Linked DNA regions of Homo sapiens: region 1 is linked to region 2. Evidence: fine-mapped expression QTL. A gene starts in region 2. The other region holds a variant in brackets. All regions are shown on one strand. Distances are between the middles of the regions.

Region 1 (10,027 bases), 27 kb before region 2:
GGCAACAGAACCACACCCTGTCTCAAAAAAAAAAAAAAAAAAAAAAAGAAAAAGAACAAACTGAAAAATTGGATCCCATAAAAATTTTGCAGTTCTACTCTTCAAAAAACACCGTTCAGAAAAGGAAAGCCATGGACAGGGACAAAGTCTACGTAAGGCGCAAATGTGAAAAGGGACTTGCATCCAGAATACGTAAAGATCTCACGAGTCAACAGTAAAACAACAAACCCAGTCTAAAATAACTGGCAAAAATCAGAAGGGACATTTCACCAAAGAAGACATATGGTGGCAAATACGCACAAGAGAAGCCACTCTACGTTCTCAACGATTGGGGAAGCGCAACTTAAACCTCAAGGAGATGCCGCCGCACACCCATCAGGACGGCTGAACGCCTAAGCCCGCCCACCACACACGCTGGCCAGGACGTGGAGCAGCAGGAACTCTCACTCACTGCTGGTAGGACGAGGAATGGTGCAGCCACCTTGGAAGATAGTCTGGCAGTTTCTAAAAGTTAAACATAAGCACAAATATATGATCCAGCCATTCCACACCTAGGTATCTATCCAGGGAAATAAAACCGTGTATCCCGACAACAACTTGTACCCGAATGTTCACAGCCGCTTTCTTTGTGACAGTCAAGAACTGGAAACACTCCACACGCTCCAACGGGCAAATGGAGGAACAAACGCGACATCCACGCAGGGGAACACTGCCCAGCACACGCCACGCATCCAAGGAGCCCAAAATAATGACGCTGAGGGAAGGAAGCCAGACCAAAAGAAGAACATATTGTAGGATTTCATTTAGACAAAGCTCTAAGGAAGGCAACGAATCTACAGGCCCAAAAGCAGACTGCTGCAGCCTGGGGAGAAAGGGGTGTGGGTAGGAGAGAGCTTCTGGGTGACGGACAGGTTCATCATCTGGACGGCAGCGAGGGTTTTATACATGTTTTATATGTGTTTGCATACATCAAAAGTTATCTAACTGTATCTTTAAATATACGCAGCTTATGTTAATTATGCCTCAAAAAGCCGTTTTAAAAAATAACTACACAGCAATCATCCTAACTGCACCCTTATATTCCAGGCTTCATTTGATCTATAGCTTTAAACAACCTCCACAGCTCAGGACAAAGGTAAACTGGTGGCATGAAACCACCACGGCTTCTGTCGCTGACCTCAGAGATGCCCTTTTCCATCCTAAAGAGTTTCACAAAAACAATGTAGCCCTGCGTTACAATTATTCTTTCTCTAGATCAGGAACCTGCAAGTGTTTTCCGTAAGGGACCAAATCACACATATTTTGGGTTTGTAGGCCACATGGTCTCTCTCGCACCTACTCAGCCTTTCTGCTGTGGCACAAAACAGCCACAGACAGCACCGGCGAGGGCGGTGGGGCGTGGCCATGCACCTGTAAAACTTTACCCACAAAAGGAGGCAGGGGTTCCGGAGGAGCCACCATGTCATCTGGGAACTTGCTAGAGATGCACATTCTCAGTCCCTACCTCGGACCTGGGAACCCAGAATTCTGGGGATGGAGCCCACAGCATGTCATTTCAGAAGCCAGCCCAAGATTCCAAACCTTGGGTTTGAATATGCTGGTCTAGAAAACCGGCCAAGTGATGAGCTGATCTGATTTAAAAGGAACACACCCCGAGGCAAACACTCAAGGGCCAGGCACTGCTGACCCTGCTCCCAGGTGGGGCCCTGGGCCACCTCAGATAAAACATGAGCTCCCGCCAGGCACGGTGGCTCACGCCTGTAATCCCAGCACTTTGGGAGGCCAAGGTGGGTAGCTCACAAGGTCAGGAGTTCAAGATCAGCCTGACCAACAAACCCCGTCTCTACTAAAAATTAAAAAATTAGCCGGGCATGGTGGCAGGCGCCTATAATCCCAGCTACTCAGGAGGCTGAGGCAGGAGAATCCCTTGAACCTGGGAGGCAGAGGTTGCAGTGAGCCAAGACCACATCACAGCACTCCAGCCTGGGTGACAGACCTAGACTCTGACTCAAAAACAAAAACAAAAAAAAACATGAGTTCCCCGACCAAGCCACTCATGGGAGAAAAAAAAAAAAAAAAGGAAAATGACACTCCTGATAAACCTGTTACTCCATTTCCTGACTGACAAGTTTCAACTCTTTTTAAAAAACACAATTCTCAAACGCCTCTGCTGTTCTTCCATGACGCCGTAGCACGCTCAGCACAGCCACTGTCCCATCCTCCCTAGGGGGCGATTCGGCCTCGGCATCTAGAATAGGGGCATCTGAGCTGGTCCCACACATACCAGCCGAGACCATTCTATGCTGCAGACACCGAACATACGGGTTTAAGGACCAGGAATCCTGTGTGTCCACGTGTGCATGCACACACATTGTCACTAGATAAAACACCACATTCCAAGACAATAACATCTGGCTGTCCAAAGATTACTTCTGGTTAAAGTCGCAAATAATCAGTATTGCCATATTTCCCTTTATAAAGTACCTCTTCACACTCTTCCTTGCTCAATGCTTAAAATGTCAACATTTACTTAAAATGTTGTGCAGGCTGGGCACAGTGGATCAAGCCTGTAATCCCAGCACTTTGGGAGGCTGAGGCGGGCAGATCACCTGAGGTCGGGAGTTCGAGACCAACCTAACCAACATGGAGAAACCCCATCTCTACTAAAACTACAAAATTAGCCAGGCATGGTGGCACATGCCTGTAATCCCAGCTACTCAGCAGGCTAAGGTAGGAGAATTGCTTGAACTCAGGAGGCGGAGGCTGCAGTGAGCCCAGATCACACCATTGCACTCCAGCCTGGGCAACAAGAGCAAAGTTCCACCTCAAAAATAAATAAATAAGTAAATAAATAAATATATAAAATATAAAAATCTTTTGCAAATCCAGAGAAACATGTCAAGAAGATATAATAATTCAAAAGCATGAGGAAAGAAATCCAGTTTTAAGACGGAAGAGCAACATCGCTTCAACCCCATTCTCCTCTCAAAAATCGCCGAGAGCCCGGCTCTTGGATGAAGGAAGCATTGTCTCGAGCTCAAGCACACATAGGGCAGGAGGCAGCTGGGAGGAGGCGGCTGGGGGCCAAGCAGCTGCAGAGGCAGACGCTAGGGAGCCACGCCGACGCGCTCTGGCACCAAAGCGCCACCATGGGAGGGGAGGCCTTGCAGAAGCAGGATCGGGGCTGGCCCGCACGTCTGCATAAGAGCCATCCGCGGGCTCCCAGGTGCCCTCCCCCTTGCAGCCATTGGCACGTCAGCCTTGACGTGACCAGATGGTCAAGAATTGGCAATGTGGGGAAATGCCCCTTTAAAGCCGAGGTCTGAAACCAACCAAAGGAATGCAGAGGAAACCAGCAGGACAAACTGTCAAGAAAAACATCATTAATGTCTGCAGCAACAGGAGAAAGATACAGCATCCACAAGTCACAAAAGGTGGGAGCTTTTACAAAGAGATAGATATCTTAGAAACGAAAATGAAATCATGAAACTAAAAGTAGCCAACAAAGAAAGTGCTCATGATAAGGCGGAGACCTCCAGAGAGTAATCCTGAGCCACAAGGGAACAGCAGGGAGACCACAGCAACCGGAGCACCAGTGCCAGGAGGACCAACGTCCAGCCCTAGGGAGCACCGAGCAGAAGATGCCACGGGCACCATCCCGAAGATCGGGGCGCGAGCCTCCTGGCAACAAAAACCTGACAAGGGCCCAATAGGCGCCCAACACAGGGCCAAACACAAGCCGCCTCGAGGTGTCTGACAAGACATTTTGAATGCCAGATCTAAGAGGAGGTTCTGAAAGCTCCTGAAGGGCACAGTCAGGTCACATGTCAGAGCCCAAAGCAGATGGCAGGGGACTTCGCCATGGGGACACCAGAGGCAAGACGCTGAGGAGCGCCGACAAGTGTTCTGTTCCAGCCCTCCATACACGGGTGCCCAGTTACCAGGTCAGCCATGCAACACCCAAAGCACGTGCCTCCCAGGCACCCAACTGCACAGTGTGCTGTGGCTACTCAGGTAAGGATGAACCCAGGAGGGGAACCCCTAGAATCCCTCACCAGGAAGAGCACAGAAATACCCAGGGCGGGCAGGTGAGGGCCAGCTGGCCATCGGCCTCTGGACCACAGAGGGAGGGGGCAGAGAAGAACGCTGGAGCAAGGACGGAGCAGCCAGAGATCCTGAGAAAACCAAGCAAGGGAGTAAAAACCAAGATGATGCCTAACTCCAGGAACACACAGTGGAGAGGAAATGAGGTCAGGCACGCAACTCCAAGACAGAAAGCAGCACAGACAGGAAATGAGGTAAGGACACAGAGAGCTCCAGACAGGAAATGAGGTCAGGACACAAGACAGGAAATGAGGTCAGGACAGAGTGCTCCAGACAGGAAATGAGGTCAGGACACAGAGTGGCACAGATAAGAAATGAGGTCAGGACACAGAGTGGCACAGACTGGAAAAGAGGTCAGGACACAAGAGTGGCACAGACAGGAAATGAGGTCAGTACACAGAGTGCTCCTGACAGGAAATGAGATCAGGACAGAGAGAGCTCCAGACAGGAAATGCAGTCCGGGCACAGTGTGTTGCATACAGGAAATGAGGTCAGGACAAAGAGTGGCACAGACAGGAAATGAGGTCAGGACAGAGTGACACAGACAGGAAATGAGGTCACTGGCTCCAGACAGGAAATGAGGTCAGGACAGAGAGAGCTCCAGAGAGGAAATGCAATCCGGACACAGCATGTTCCAGACAGGAAATGAGGTCAGGACAAAGGGTGGCACAAACAGGAAATGAGGTCAGGATACAGAGTGCTCCAGACAGAAAATGAGGTCCGGACAAAGTGGCACAGACAGGAAATGATATCAGGATACAGCATGTTCCAGACAGGAAATGAGGTCAGGACATAGAGAGATCCAGACAGGAAATGAGGTCAGGACAGAGAG[A/C]GCTCCAGACAGGAAATGCAGTTAGGACACAGCATGTTCCAGACAGGAAATGAGGTCAGGACAAAGGGTGGCACAGACAGAAAATGAGGTCAGGACAGAGCGGCACAGACAGGAAATGAGGTCAGGACACAGAGAGCTCCAGGCAGGAAATGAGGTCAGGACACAGTGTGTTCCAGACAGGAAATGAGGTCAGGACAGTGTGCTCCAGACAGGAAATGAAGTCAGGACACAGTGTTCCAGATAAGAAATGGGGTCAGAAGACACCACTCAGTCATATTAATCAGCCAAAGGATAGATTTATCAAAACTCAAGACGCAAGGTGTCAGCACGTGGGGCTGTGGCAGGTACAGGTCTAAGCAGCTGGACTGAGGTCAAGCACCATAGTGCTTGTCACACTCAGGTACGTGGGGGTCACTCAGGTACATGGGGTCAACAGAAGACTATGCAGCAAGAATGGGGAGCGTCCCTGCCTGTGGAAAGTTGGGGAGGACAGGATGGGGACACTGGCTGTCATCATTCAGCTTTTGGTATGCCATGGACTCCTTAGCTAAAGATAAAAGACAAAAGAAAGGCCGCATGGTAGGGTGACCGACACCTGAGAGAAACTGGCCTAACAAGCACGTGGGGTGTGGTGCCAGTCCACAGCACGCACCACAGGACACAGAGGTGACACTGTGGGGCAGTGCCCAGCCATGTCCCCTAAAAGCCACCTGCACCCAAGTGCACAGCACAGGCATTTGGAGGAAAGAAGTGTTGTTGTGGCTGTCTCCACCCTCAGAAACCCCCCAGAGCTCACCTGACCGCAGGGACCCCATAGGTGTGCAGCAGGGGGGCTGCACGCCTCAGGTGCAAATGCCAATGGCCCGTGCTATTCCACCAGCAAATGCCCTGCGCATCACACACACACACACACGCACGCAGTGACCACAGTCTGGCCAAGACTGTGATAACTTCAGGAACAAAGAGAAGACTCCAATTCGGCTCCTACCTCCCAGTCCACTTCACCCCTCCCCAGAGATAGTGGTGACGGCCACAAGTCTAGGCACAAGGCCAGACAGGTAGACCGGTCACTGCACACAAGGACAGGCTGACAGCCAGAGGCCGCGTCTTCAACGCACCCAGACTGAGTATCAAGTAAATTAAAATAAAAAGCAGTCCAGTAGACATCTAAGTAGGACCTCAAGCCTTCGGGAAGGGACGGTAATCCTAGGATGAGGCATTGCCATTTCAGGGCTGTTTGGGACGGGGACATGTCACGCTGGAGATCTCAGTGCAGCAGAGTCCCCCAAGCACCCTGTGACACGAAGACCCACGGGGGGAGAGCAGAGCCGAGCCCTCCCACCCCCTCCAACGGGCACCACGCATGGAGACCAGTTGGGCCAGCACTCTTGCAGGCGCACCAGCAGGTCGTGGCCTCCTCTAGCGTGGACCTTCCAGATTCTTCACAATCAGTGTCTGGAGGGGAACAAGCAGCTCCCACGTGGGTCCAACACCTCAGAGGAGCAGCGCCAGTGCCAACCCCAGCCCCTCATGGTCACTGGAGCCCACCTGGAATGTCTAGAATGGTGCCTTCTGTGCAAGAGCCACATGAGGCAGCTCCGGACAAGCATCCGTGGCCTGACGACCAGGCACGTGGCCCTTGCCGCCGTGGTCCACACAGCCAGGATGGGCATCCAGAAGGACCCAGAGCCTTCTCTTCCAGCAGCAGGCACTCTGGGGACACCACTCTGGCCCAAGATGTGTGCACACCACCAGAAAGCAACCCTCAGCAAGTCCAGCATCGATGCCCGGCCCCCGCACACACCTCCCCTCTGCTGTCACTGTGGGCTCTCAGCCCTGGTAGGGGGGGCACAACACCCCCAAACCAAGGCCTCAAGCCAGGGCCGCACCAGGGCACGAGGGACCCGCAGCCTCACTCCCAGGGCCCCTGTGGGCAGCAGCACCAGCTCCATCCTCCATCTGCTCGCACCGTTCCTAGCTGTCAGAACTGGGGGCATGTGGCTCATTTAGTAAGTGCACACGCGCTGGGAAGATGTCCTCAGGAACAAAAGTGAGGAGGCCCTGGCAGAGGCCAGCAGCCCCCTGAGACAGGGCATATGTGCAGGAAGGGCTGACAGGAACATAAGGCTGCGTGTCCTGTTCCTTCCGATTCCTCCAAGTGTGTGTCCAAGGACGACCTGCACTCACAAGTGGCCAGGCTTCTCCCTGGGTTGTAAACCAAGGGATACACCAAAACTCAGGAAGCCCCCTTTATGGATAACTCCAGACACCTAAAGTCTGGGGAGCCTCCCACCTTTTGCCCGCTGTGCTGGAGCCCGTGATACCGGCCTGGGTGCTCTGGAGCCCATGATACCAACCTGGGTGCTCTGGAGCCCGTGATACCGGCCCGGGTGCTCTGGAGCCTGTGATGTAGGCCTGGGTGCTCCAGACTCCACAGGGGAGGCTGCGCTGCAGGCGGGTGCTGGACTCACAGAGCAGCTAAAGCAACTGAACTGAATCGCGTTATGAAATATTTACTCCAATTTAGCAACTCTATTTTTTTTTTTTTTTTCAGACAGGGTCTCACTCCATCACCCAGGCTGCAGTACAGTGGCATGACCTGGGCTCACTGCAACCTCTGCCTCCCGGATTCAAGCTCTTCTCATGCCTCAGCCTCCCAAGTAGCTGGGATTACAGGCACCTGCAACCACGCCCGGCTAATTTTTGTATTTTCAGTAGAGATGGAGTTTTGCCATTTTGATCCAGGCTGGTCTCAAACTCCTGACCTCAAGTGATCTGCCCATCGCCAACTCCAAAAGTGCTGGGATTACAGGCACGAGATACCGCGCCTGGCCTCACTTCCTTCTTGTAACGTTCAATATTTCACTCTTCCACGGATGCGCTGGGACCATGGGACGGCTCTTCCAGAAGAGCTGAGCACCAGCCTGGTGCTGGCCCTGAGGGAGGAACCCATACCACGCGTTTGGGGACAGCTGTGAGGACGCTGGCCGGGTACTCCAGAGGGCCACAGACTGTGCCAGAAAGGACCGTGAGCAAGGGGCTGCTCCCTTCCCTGAGCTGTACCTGCTCCGCGGGCACTGACTGCTGGGCCGCCAGGTTTCTCTCGAGTGTGGAAATAAAGACCCTCAGTCAGCAGCTCAGACGGACGAAAGCCTTCCACAGGCCAAAACACCATGACATAAAGGGGCCCTGCAGAGGTTAGTGCCAGGTGGGACCCGGGACCAAGCTGCTTCTGGGGAGGCTGAGTGCAGCCCTGCACCAGGATCAGAACGTGGGGCAGCCTCCTCAGCAGCCACAGCACCCTCCTGGGGCCCAGGGGATTCTCAATCGAGCCAGGCCACAGCAAACCCTGGTCTTGGGACACAGCCCCCTACTCAGCTTTCTCACCTTTCACGGAGCAGCTAAAAATGAATGGACCCGTTCTTTACAAGACTTTTGAAAACTTAAGGTAGGATAAAGTTTGTTATTAAACTGGAGATTCCAACCCTCCACATCTGAAGAGCGCCCTACCTGCCCTCGGTTCCTCCTCCTCCTCCTCAGATCTCTCACCGGGGGGTGCACAGAGACCTGGCAGGAAACCCCGAGAGGCCTCCCCACAGGTGTGCAGAGCACTGGCAAAGACCAGCATCACTCCCACGTGCCACGGCGCGTCTGGGCACAGCCACTGCCAGGAACAGTGAAATGTCAACGGACATGACAGCTGGGGAGGCCTCCAGAGACGAGGCCAGATAAGCCGGTTCAGCCACGCTGTGCCCGGAGCCAAGGGGCGGGGAGGGAAGCAAGAAGGGGAGAAGCTGCAGGTTTGTGTCACTGGCCAACAACAACCAGACTCGAGAAAATGGTCGACATTCACGAGGAAAGAAATACTTTGCGGTTCATTTTTCTAGAAAAAGCCACCGTGTACAAACACAATTTCACAGCTGAGACCTGTGAACCTATCACATACATTGGGTTCCACCAGTGACATGGAGCAGGTCTCCCACTGCCCGGCGCCAGCCCCCCCAGATGCTGCCCACACAGAGGCAGTAACCGTTACACAGGCGAGGGCTCTACAGGGAAAGGAGGGCGGCTGCAGCTGGGGATGAGCCTCGATGGCCCCACACGACCTGGGGACCAGGACAGGAGTGAACACACCATACGTCACTGTGGTGGGACGTGAGGGCGCTTGAGAGCTGGGAAAACCCTGCCGGCTCTGAAATAAGACCTCAGCAGGGGCTGGGGCAGGGGGAGGGAGCGGGGGTTCACACCTGTAATCCCAGTACTGTGGGACACCAGGCGGGAGGATGGCTCAAGCCCAGGAATTCACGACCAGCCTGGGCCACAGAGTGAGACCCCATCTCTACAAAAAATAAATAAATAAAAGAACATCAGCAGATACCCAGACCTGTGGGCAGCCAACAGAAGGTCAACTTGGGCATCAAAACTGTGACTAGAACGGACAGTAAGTGACTCTTTCCGAACACGGTCCGCAGCGCTACTACACGGCAAGAAGGCAGGCGGGAGGAGAAAGGCGAGACTCCAGCAGCAGCAGTGGCCAAGAGTGCGGTCAGTGCCCCACGTCCCCATCCCTAAGACAAGCAGACTCACCAGGGATCCTGGCCCACCCGGATAAAGTCCATGGGGACAGGGGACTTTTGGGGTCCAAAGTTCCCCTCGGCGGATTACTCATTAATTACCAAGGGAGAGGCTCCCCTGAGAAAAGCATGGGGGCCGCTTGCTCCTGATGCCTCCCACGCCTCTGATAGGGCACCGGCCCCCCGGGGCTGCCGCTACCCACCTGCCCGTCCGGGCCCTGCCAACGCGCAGCCAGCTGCCTAGGGCAACGAGGCAGGCCCAAGAGAAGAGTCAGCTGAGCCGCCAGGCAGGTCCCAGGCAGAAGTAAACTACTGAAGAGGGCGTGGCAGACACGGCAGAGCGTGGCCAGGGGAGCCAGCTTCCCAGACTTGGTCACCGTGTCACGGTCACACACCACATCCCCTTACTTTTAGAAATTCAGAATGAAGGGCTTAGCAGGGAGGACCCCACTGACTGAAACATTCTCTCAAATGACCGGCAAAAAGTTGCAAAAACAGTCGTGGCGAGAGGAGGCCA
Region 2 (10,027 bases):
CATTCCCCAGAACAGACCTCGAGACTCAAAGGTCTCAAGCCCGACCACCTGGCTGGGCACCTGCCTGAAGAAACGCTGCCTGGGGCCAGGGGCAGCCTTGCAGTGACACGGGTCAAAAGCCAGCATGAGGGATCAGAAAACCCCCGTCGCGGACCCTCCACTGGGAAGCGCGCAGAGCTTCCCAACCAAGCGACCCTCAACCCACAGCCCACTGAGACCCACGCCAGCCCACACAGCGCAAGGGCAAGGGGACCTGCAAGACCCCTGGGAATTCAGGCATCTGCAGGACAGAGCAACAACACTGTAACACAACCCAAATTCTCCAGTCACCAGAATGCCCAGACTGCACGTGGCAGGTGAAGAACAGCTCTCACACAGGCAGCCCACCGCCCCTAGGAACAGGACGCCCGGCCCCCTCGGAGCAGGACCCCCGGCCCAGAACAGGACCCTGGCCCCCTCAGAACAGGATCCCGGACCTCTGGGAACAGGACCCCCCCCACCAGCCCTGTTGGAACAGAAACCCCGGCCCCCTCGGAGCAGGACCCCCCCTTGGAGCAGGATCCTGCCACGGCCCAAGGGAAGCACGGCACCACCCTGTTATCAGCCTGCACGGAAAGCGCTTGGCTGACGTTCTGCGGGACAAGGGGCCGCGTCCCAGGCAGCAGGCCAAGCGGCAGCTCCAACTGCCACATTTTGTCTCCGTCTCTGACAGCTGTCTATACTGACAAAAAAATGTAGTCCAATGGAGTCCTACAGCTATCAGAGAACCCGAGGAAGGAGGCGAGCCGACCGGAAAGAAGAAAGAGGGGTGGGAGTGGGGAAGGCTCAGAGGCTCCAGTCTTGGCTAAGTGCTCCCAGCAGCACAATGACCCATCTGTGCCCCACCTGTACCACTCAAAACATAAAGTCCAAGATCAATAAACAGTAGTCCCCAGTTTACACTGAGGCAGAGAGGTTAAGCAACTCGTCCAAGGTCACAAAGCCAGTGTGGGACCGAGTGGGGAGGTGAGACAAGGTCCCCTGTCAAGGATAGCAGCCCCAGGGTCCCTAAGAGGAGACTCGCCAAGCACCCATGCAGCCCACATGGTCTTCCAAGATACAGCAGCAGGAAGCTGGCCGGGCCCGACAGCCACTGGACAGAAGCGGAGGCTTCCTCTGTAACCCCGTGACATGAGGGGGCATCTGGAGGAAGACTGTCTGCCCCTCATGCTGCCACTGCACTGCCGACAGGCCAGAGGCTCAGGCACAGCCGCTGTCACAGGAGGCTTCCAAGGAGAAAGCTGCAGCCCTGCCTCCCACTTGGTTTGGGACCCGGGAACATCTCCGCCCTCTCCCACCTCCCACCATGGGTAGGAGAGTGGCGCTGACCCAGCCCACTCAGGCAGGAGACCCGACCCTGGCCTGGCCACAAACACCCGGAAGGCAATTCAGCCCCCTCCGGCTCCGCAGAGCCCGAAGGCCTGCTGGGAGCAGCAGCCCTGCAAAGAGAGTTCCAGTACATTCTTTGTTCTGCCCTCATCTTCGGCAGATCAAAAATATTAAAATAAGCTACAAAGGAAGTGAAGAAATCAAAACATATCCCGAGAATAAGCTGTCAAGACACGAGTGGGAGGAGCCAACGGCGGCCAGTGAGGGCGGAGGCGGGGCCTCCCAGGCCACTCCTTCTAGGACAAGTAGGGTCTGGGCACTGTGGGTCCACGCCCACCCTGAGACCACACTCCCTTCTCATGTGTCGCTCCTGTGCACACAGAGACACGCACACGGCTGTCCTGAGGAGACTTAAGGGGACCCTGAAGCCCAGAACTCCCAAGTGCACAGTCACAGAGCCTAAAGGGCAGGCACTGAGCGAGGGCAGAGTCCCTGGCCGCCATCCCACGTCAAGAACATAGAGCAGGAGGCAACACGGGCAGGATGGGTGCCCCACCCCCAGGAGCATGAGGAGAGGAAAACCCGCAGGAGCTGGTGAACATTCAGGGAGCCAGGCGGAGGACACCACTGCCAGGGCCAGGCTGTGTGGCTGCCACTCAGGCCTAGAGGACGCAGTCACTCACACCGTGCACGTCGTCAGTATGGCCTGGGAATTGCTTTTTAATCGGTAAATGAAATTTCAGAGCAGTGCTGGGGACTTCAAAAGGGAAAGGCGGCTCGGAGGCATCCGCTGAGATGACCAGAGCCTGTCTGGCCTGTCTCTATGGCGGCCCAAGGACCCCGGCGCTCACAACCACAGGGAGAGAGAAGCCGGGTGGCCTGGGCCCTGCTCTGTGTCAGCTGTGACAACGAGGCCCCACTGGCCACTCCAATGGGCCCCCAGCAAAGCCCAGGAAGACAGAAAGACCACAAGCACACACATGACCCACAGTCGGACAAAAACAAACGCAGACACACCCTGCTCAACCGAGATCCTCTGCCATCAGCTCTGAAGACAGTGACGTGAGCGTGTCCCAGCAGCTCAGGCCTTGGCCACAGGTGACCCACTACGCAGCCTGCACGAGCCCACAATCCCCCCCGACATGTGGCTTCCTCCAGCCACAGGCACTGACGAGGGTGCGGCCACCCCAAAAAGAAAGGCCCCAGCCCACAGGGAGCGCCATCGGGCCCACCCCAACCAACTCCCCGTGTGACACGAAGGGCCCCAGCCTGCTACGTCTGTCTGCAGCTCTGCCACGAGCATCCTTCCCCAGCCCACAGGTCTGCAGGCGGCTGCCACCTGAGCCCTGGCCTGGCAGGGTCAGAAGCGCGCACACACAAACACACACATGCACACACACATGCACCCTCCGCAGCCCCCTCCGAGCAGAGGCGACAGTCCCTCGCTTCCATCCACAGCCCCTCCTCCCCACGATCTGACACTCTGCTGGAGGGGCGCCCAGAGAAAACCGGGCTGGAGCATCTATTCACAGATTTAGAAAAAAAAAGTTTGATGCAATAGCTGAATTAATTAGGCCTCCCAAGAATAGCTGAGCCAATGCAGCATTCTGTGTGTGCAATTTAATAAGCCTGGATATTTAAAAGAAAAGTTACAAATACTTGGGGAGGTACGCAACGGAAAGTTCCTGAGGACCCCACTGAGTAATTTCGGCACCTCGTGGCCTGGGAGCTGCCCATGCCGGATCCCATAGATCCTCCAACTGGCAAACAACAAAGCCAGGCCAGCAGCCTCCCTCTCCGGCGCACCCCTCTGCGTTTCAGAGGGAGAGAAGGAAATGGGTGAGTCCAAAGCAAATCGCAGGCCGCCAGTAACTCCAGCACGCGGGCCCAGGAGCCTGCTGACCAGGCCCCTCAGCCGGGTGCCAAATGGCCCTCACCCCACACGGCGGACTCTGGGATTTGGTCCCTGGCAGGCCCAGGGAGACCAACCAGCACAGTGCTGGAGCCGCCAAGTCTCGGGCCCCTGCCACTGAAGCCTGGACACCTGGCTTCATTTTGTGTCTGTGTCCCAAAACTTCAAGGCACCAAACAGGGAGCGGGAGCCAGTAACAAAACCAGGCCTCGCCTCACCCAAGCTCTGTCTCCTGGGGCCCAAAGGCAGGCAGCCCTCCGTCTTCGAGGCTGGGTGCCTTCGGGGCGAGGACAGCCACCTTCACCCCAACCCCAAGAAAGACCTGGGCCTGAGGCATCCGGGCCGTGGCCCAGCTGGACCTAACTTCCCTGACCTGGGGCAGGCCGCTTTCTCGGGAGCATGAGGCCTGTGCCTTCCTATCTGGGCAATGCCTGTGGGCCTGCGGGCCTTCCCCACACACCAGGCCTGGCCCCCCACCCCACCGCCACAGCCCGCACTCCAGGCTCGTCCTGGGGAACGGGCAGGAGGGCCTTCCTACCAAACTCTCTGGCCCTGCCAGTCGGAACACTCTGAATTTCCCTAAAACAAAGCGAAGACTGGAGACATGGGGCACGGCAGAAGCACAGGTCCCAGCCTTCGGAGACCAGAGCCTGTAGTCCAGAAGGGGCCCCCACCCCAAGCGCATCCTCCCCAGCTCCCAGGCCTGGGGCCACTCACCCGGGGCACCCGCCGCTTGTACTTGTTGCCATAGTCGAATTTCTCCTTCACGTCGTCCAGGCAGCGGCCGAGGCGCGCCTGCTCCTCCTTGCCCGTGTAATCCTGGCTCAGCAGGATGTAGGCCCGCCAGTTGGCCGAGTCGAAGCCCCAGTGGCAGGTCCGGTTCTCCAGGGCCTTGTGCGAGTGCACCACGAACTTGTGCGGCGGGTACATGAGGCGGCAGTCCAGGCACTGGATGCAGGCGGCGCTCGGGCTGCTGTAGAGCTCGGGCACCAGCAGCCCCTTACACTTGCCGAAGCACTCGTGGTACACGCGGACGCTGCGCTCGCTGAGCTCCAGGCCCAGCGCCAGGCTGGCGGCCAGCTCCTTCTTGCAGGGCGGCGGGTAGGCGCCGCCGTAGAGCAGCGCGTTGCACAGGCGCTCGGCGTCCGTCTTGGTGATGAGCCCGCACGAGGGCGCCGAGAAGGGCAGGATGCCCATGACTTTGAGGATCTCCAGCTGGTCGGCCGTGCAGCGCGAGCAGTAGATGTGGAGCTCGTCGCACACCGCGTTGATCTGCTGCAGCGAGAAGTCGCGCAGCACCGAGTTGAGAATCTGCGGCAGACACAGGCGCTTCTCGCCTCCCACCACGAAGCACGAGATGGTCTCGCCTTCCAGTACGGTCTCGCAGCGCTCGGTGGAGCGGTCGGACGGCATGAAGAAGGGCCCGGGCAGCACGGGCGGCGGCGGCTGGATGGCGGGCAGGTGCAGCACGGGCGGCGGCTCGGTGGCTGCGGGCACCGGCGCCGGCACCGCGGCCGCGCCCGCCTCCTTGGCGCTCTCCTTCTTGTAGGCCTCCTGCGCCCAGCGCGCCGAGAAAGCGGCCGGGCCGCCCAGCGAGCTCATGGAGCTCAGGTGGAACTGCTCCAGCGTCTTCTGCAGCCCCGGGTGCGGCTGGAAACAGCCGCGGCCGCCTGCCGCCGCCTCCATGGTGCGCTCCGGCTCCCCCGGCCGCTCCCGCTCCCGCGCGCCCGGGCCCCCCCGGCCCCCGCCGCCGCCCCGCGCGCCCCGGCGGCGCCCGCGGCCCCGACCCCGGCCGCCCCCCGCCGCCGGCTCACGGCCGATCACGGCCGCGGCCTCGCCCGGGGGCGCGAAGGGGAAGGCGGGCGGGGCGAAGGGGTCCCGCCGCTGGAGCCCGCCGCCGCCCGGGCCCGGCGCCACATCCACGCGCCCCGCGCCGCGCCCGCCGCCGCCCGGGCCCCCCGCGCGTCCCCCGCGCGCCCCCCGGGCTCTAGGCGCGGGGCATGCCCCGGCGCGCGCCGCCAACGCCAACGCCAACGCTCGCGGGCCCGGGGCTCGCGGGGGGCGCGCGGGCAGGTGCCGGCGCCGCGAGGCGCGAATCGCCGCGGCGGCCGAGGCCGAGGGGCCCGGGAGGAGCGGGGGCGCGGGCGCGGGGCCCGCCGGGCCGTCCTCGCGCGGCGCGCCGCCGCCGCCCCGCTCCTCCCACCGCGAGGCGCCCGCCCGGCTCGTCCCGGCGGCGCTGGCCGGCCGCGTCGCGCCCGCCGCCGGCCCCCGGCCCGCCCGCCCGCCGGCTCCGCGGCCCGCCCGCCCGGCTTCCGGGGCGGCGGAGGCGCCTCTCGCCCGCGGCCCTCAGAGCGCGGCGGCGGCGCGGGGCTCGGGGCGCTCGGCGCACATCCTCCCGGCGGCTCGCTCCGGCTCGGACTGAGCGCCCGGCGCTGAGCTCACGCCGCCGCCGCGCCGCCCCGCCCCGCGCCGCCCGCTCCGCCCCGCGCCGGCCCCGCCCCCCGCGCTGTTTGTTGCCGTGCGTCCGCCTCAGCCCTAGCGCTGGCCAAGAATGTGACCCGCTCCCCAGCCGGGCTCTTCCAGGAACGCGCGCTCCCCGCCCGGACTCGGCCGCGCTCGGCTCCGCTCGCCCGGGACTCGGCCACGCTCGGACCCGCCCTGCCATGACTCGGCTCCGCTCGGCCGGGACTCGGCTACGCTCGGCCATGCTCGACTCCGCTCGGCCCCGCTCGGCCCCGCCCGCCGAGGGCCGCTGGGCGCGGGCGGAGGCGGAGGCGGCGGTGGCGCCCGGGGCCCCCCTTCCGGCCGAGGCCGCTTCCTGCGCCGCTGGGAAGGCGCCCGTCTCGCCGCCGTCGGGGCCCAGAAACCCACAGGCCCCCGCCACGACCGCAAACCAGCTGGGGGCGGCCGGGGGGCCACGCCACGCACCCGGGGTTCTCCCAGGGTGGGACACCACACAGCGGGGAGGCCCCGGACGCCTCTGGGGTCCCACACACTACCGGGACGCCACACGGTGACCTGGGGTCCCACACACGAGGGGGACAGCGGCCACGCCCAGGGACCCTGCGCCGAGACGGGCACCGCGTCGCGTGACCCTGGCGGCGCAGCCCGGCGGCCCCCGCTGCGCCGTGGCCGGTGGCTCGGTGGCCGAGTGTCCGCGGCTCCCGGCCGCGCCGGCCCCGCCCCGCCCGCCGGCCCCTGGCGGAGTGTCCCTGCTGCGCGGGCCGGGGGCTTCGGGCCTGGGAGGGGCGGCGCCCGGTGCCCCAGACGCAGCCGGTCTGCCAGCCACTCCTGCCAGGTGGCTTATCAGGACTTCGGCCCCGCGGGGCCCGGCGTTCGGGCCGGCGAGACCCCTGACCTCCGCCCCGGGGCCGTGGAGCGCTGAGACGTCTTTCGGGGTCGGATCGGCCGGCCCTCCACGCCTGGCCACGCAGTGGGAGAGACTCAAGCCTTGGCAGGGCGGGGAGCGGGAAGCCCGGGGCCCCGAAGTTGGACAGTCGGCCGGGTGGTCTCCAGGGGAGGCAGCTTCCAGCGAGGCCTGCGGGCGCAGGGACGCAATGGTGTGTTTGGGGAGGGGCAGGGCTCGGTCTGTGCTCGCCTGAGGCGGAGGGACATGCCCCACGGGCCGGGGGTGCCCAAGCTGGCCTGGGTGCTGGGCGGAGGCGAGAGGGCCACGCCGCTGCAACCTGAGTGACCTTCAGCTGGGACCTCCTGCCCCTCACTTCCCCAGTGGAGGCTGGAACCTGCCTCAAACCAGCACTCCTGGGCGCAGTTCCTATCCTGGGGGAGCCGGCCCGGAGTCCCTGTGCAGGTCTTGGCCGGACCTGCGGCAGGGCAGGTGTCTAGAGAGGCAGCCAGGACCTACCTGTAGGTGACCCCAGGGCGGCTCCATACTCCCTCTCTCCGCTGCCTTGGGGGTTGTCTCCTTGTCCTCACACTCCACACTGTCCCCCGACTCTTCCCATTCACTCCGTTGGCCCCCACAATTGGAGGCCAGGCTTTCTCTGTGTGTTCACACACCAGAAAGCTGGGTAAGAAGATCATTTCCTTAAAAGTGATATTTAACCCGGCAAGGTGGCTCACGCCTGTAATCCCAGCACTTTGGGAAGATAAGGCAGGCGCATCGCTTGAGCCCAGGAGTTCAAGACTAGCCTGGGCGATATAGTGAGACCCTGTCTACAAAAAATAATTTTTTTTTTTAATTAGCCGGGCATGGTGGCCTGCACCTGTGGTCTCAGCTACTTGAGAAGCTGAGGTGGGAAGATTGCTTGAGCCCAGAAGGTTGGGGCTGCGGGGAGCCGTGCTTGAGCCTCTGCACTCCATCCTGGGTGATAGGGACACACCCTTTTTTTGAGACAGACCCTGTCTCAAAAAAAAAAAAAGGGTCAGCCTCAGTGGCTCATGCCTGTAATCCCAGCACTTTGGGAGGCCGAGGCAGGCGGATCACGAGGTCAGGAGATCGAGACCATCCTGGCTAACGGTGAAACCCCGTCTCCACTAAAAATGCAAAAAATTAGCTGGGCGTGGTGGTGGGCGCCTGTAGTCCCAGCTACTCAGGAGGCTGAGGCAGGAGAATGGCGTGAACCTGGGAGGCGGAGCTTGCAGTGAGCCGAGACTGCGCCACTGCACCCCAGCCTGGGCGACAGAGCGAGACTCCGTCTAAAAAAAAAAAAAGGATATTCAGTCCAGACGCAGGGGCTCACGCCTGTAATCCCACCACTTTGAGAGGCTGAGGCGGGTGGATTATTTGAGATCAGGAGTTGGAGACCAGCCTGGCCAACATGGTGAAACCCCCTCTCTACTAAATATACAAAAATCAGCCGGGCATGGTGGCACATGCCTGTAATCCCAGCTACTCGGGAGGCTGAGGCAGGAGAATCGCTTGAACCTGGCAGGTGGAGATTGCAGTGAGCTGAGACTGCACCACTGCACTCCAGCCTGGGCGATGGAGTGAGACTCTGTCTCAAAAAAAAAAAAAAAAAAAATAGAAAAGGGACTTATTTGTTTTCCTGGAGATAGTTTCGTTGGCCCACGTTTTGGACAAAACACAGCTAGTGTTGCACTTGACGTTGTCACTTCCTTCCATCTGGATTTGAATTCCATACAACTCAGTCAAATTGTAACTCAGAGAAGGTGGTTGCAGCCAGGCCTGCTGGGAAGTGTCTCCAATCAAGCAGAGAATTCCTCTGGCTCCTCTGGTGGACCAGGGGCTCTGTGCAGGGCCCCTAGCATGGGCAGTGCCCACCCAGAGCCTCTGCTTCCTTCTGTGCCTCTGGCTTTGCAGGGTCCTAGCCAGGGACCAACACTTTGTCCAGAGTGCGGACCCCTGGGAAGTAGCCATAGGTGTGCCATGGAGTGAAGGTGCGGGGACAGGTGAGGGCCTCCAGTTGGTCTCTGAAGCTACCTCCACCTTTGTGGACTCTTGAGACTTCCTTCCCCCAATATGTCAGAGCTTCCAGAGGAAGGCACCCACCCCACCAAGGGTCAGAGCAGCCACGCCTAGAGGGAGCCACCAGGGTCCACTTTTCTTCCTGAGCTTGGCAGGGAAGAGGGTGGGGGGTGTCTCCCGCCTGCTGGCCTTCCACCCTCCAGCCCCGCCCAGCAGCTGCCCAGGCCAGTCGCCCACGCGGGCCACCATACTGGCAGGCCGCGGGTTAAGGCTGCAGGCACAGCCACAGCGCGGAGTAGGGTGGGATGGACGTGGTGCCTGCCCAGAGAAGCCCTGGCATGCGGGCAAAGGCAGGGACCTCCCAGCTTTCTCCCTGGCCCCTACCACGGTGACAGGCTTGGTCAGCTAGTCATGAGTTTGTCCCCTTGTTCGATGAGCTCCTACCACTGTAGACACTGGGATCAGGGTAAGGAGACCAGGTTGTACCCCGTGTGGTTCCATTCTGGTGTGAGAGACAACAGTCAATCAACAAACCTGCTAGTACGGGAGCGAGATCTTTCAGATCCCCAAAAGGCGCGGAGTGGCTGGGGCTGGCTGTAGGCAGGGAGGGCCTCCTGGGAGGCTGGCCTTGGAGTTGAGACCCCCACCTTAAGGAGCCAGCAGTGTGGAGATGAGTTGGATGGCGCCCCAGGACCAGAAAGAGGAAGACACTGGCAAAGCAAGGGGTACCCCAAGCTTTGGGGGAACTTGGAAACCTTGGTGGGGAAATGCATCGCAGACCAGCTCTGCTCCACCCTGCCTTGCCCTGCCCTGCTGCCACCCACTCTCTCCTCCTCAGGAAGCAGAAGGAAGGCCTTGTAGCAGCCAGGCATAGACTGCCATTGGCAAAAACATGCTCAGTTACTGGGAAAGAAACCTTCAAATGTGAAAATAAAAATTGCTCAAGTAACATCAGCTTCGTATAATTTTGTTTTGTTTTTGTTTTTGTTTGAGATGAAGTTTCGCTCTTGTTGCCCAGGTTGGAGTGCAATGGTGCGATCTCAGCTCACTGCAACGTCCATCTCCCAGGTTCAAGCGATTCTCCTGCCTCAGCCTCCCGAGTAACTGGGATTACAGGCGCCTGCCACCATGCCCAGCTAATATTTTGTATTTTTAGTAGAGACAGGGTTTCACTATGTTGGCCAGGCTGGTCTTGAACTCCTGACCTCAGGTGGTCCACCTGCCTCAGCCTCCCAAAGTGCTGGGATTACAGGCTATGCCACCGTGCCCGGCCAGTAGAAATTTTAGAAAGACCTTTGTCTTACTTTGGATTCCCCCAAACATAGGCCCTGAGACAAAGATTTTTATTTTACTTTATT

Evidence for each region. PIP is the estimated chance that this variant, and not a neighbour inherited with it, causes the effect.
Region 1: its variant is the best candidate, but not a certain one, in a credible set for the expression of SKI in whole blood (TOPMed, PIP 0.52).

Annotation. Positions count from the first base shown.
Region 1 is chr1:2,250,556-2,260,582 of GRCh38, reverse strand. All of the region lies in intron 1 of SKI (SKI proto-oncogene), which reads right to left. Among named protein-coding and RNA genes, the nearest start is that of SKI, 27 kb to the right of the region's middle. RefSeq lists enhancers at 1,275-1,324, 3,234-3,831, 4,499-4,793, 3,834-5,033. The variant A/C (reference allele first, on the strand shown) is at 4,937.
Region 2 is chr1:2,223,706-2,233,732 of GRCh38, reverse strand. It overlaps SKI (SKI proto-oncogene), which reads right to left and starts at 5,414. Exons shown (of 7, transcript NM_003036.4): 1 at 3,998-5,414. The coding sequence starts at 4,966. RefSeq lists enhancers at 2,486-2,535, 2,182-2,843, 6,673-7,493, 8,848-9,348 and a silencer at 5,584-6,353.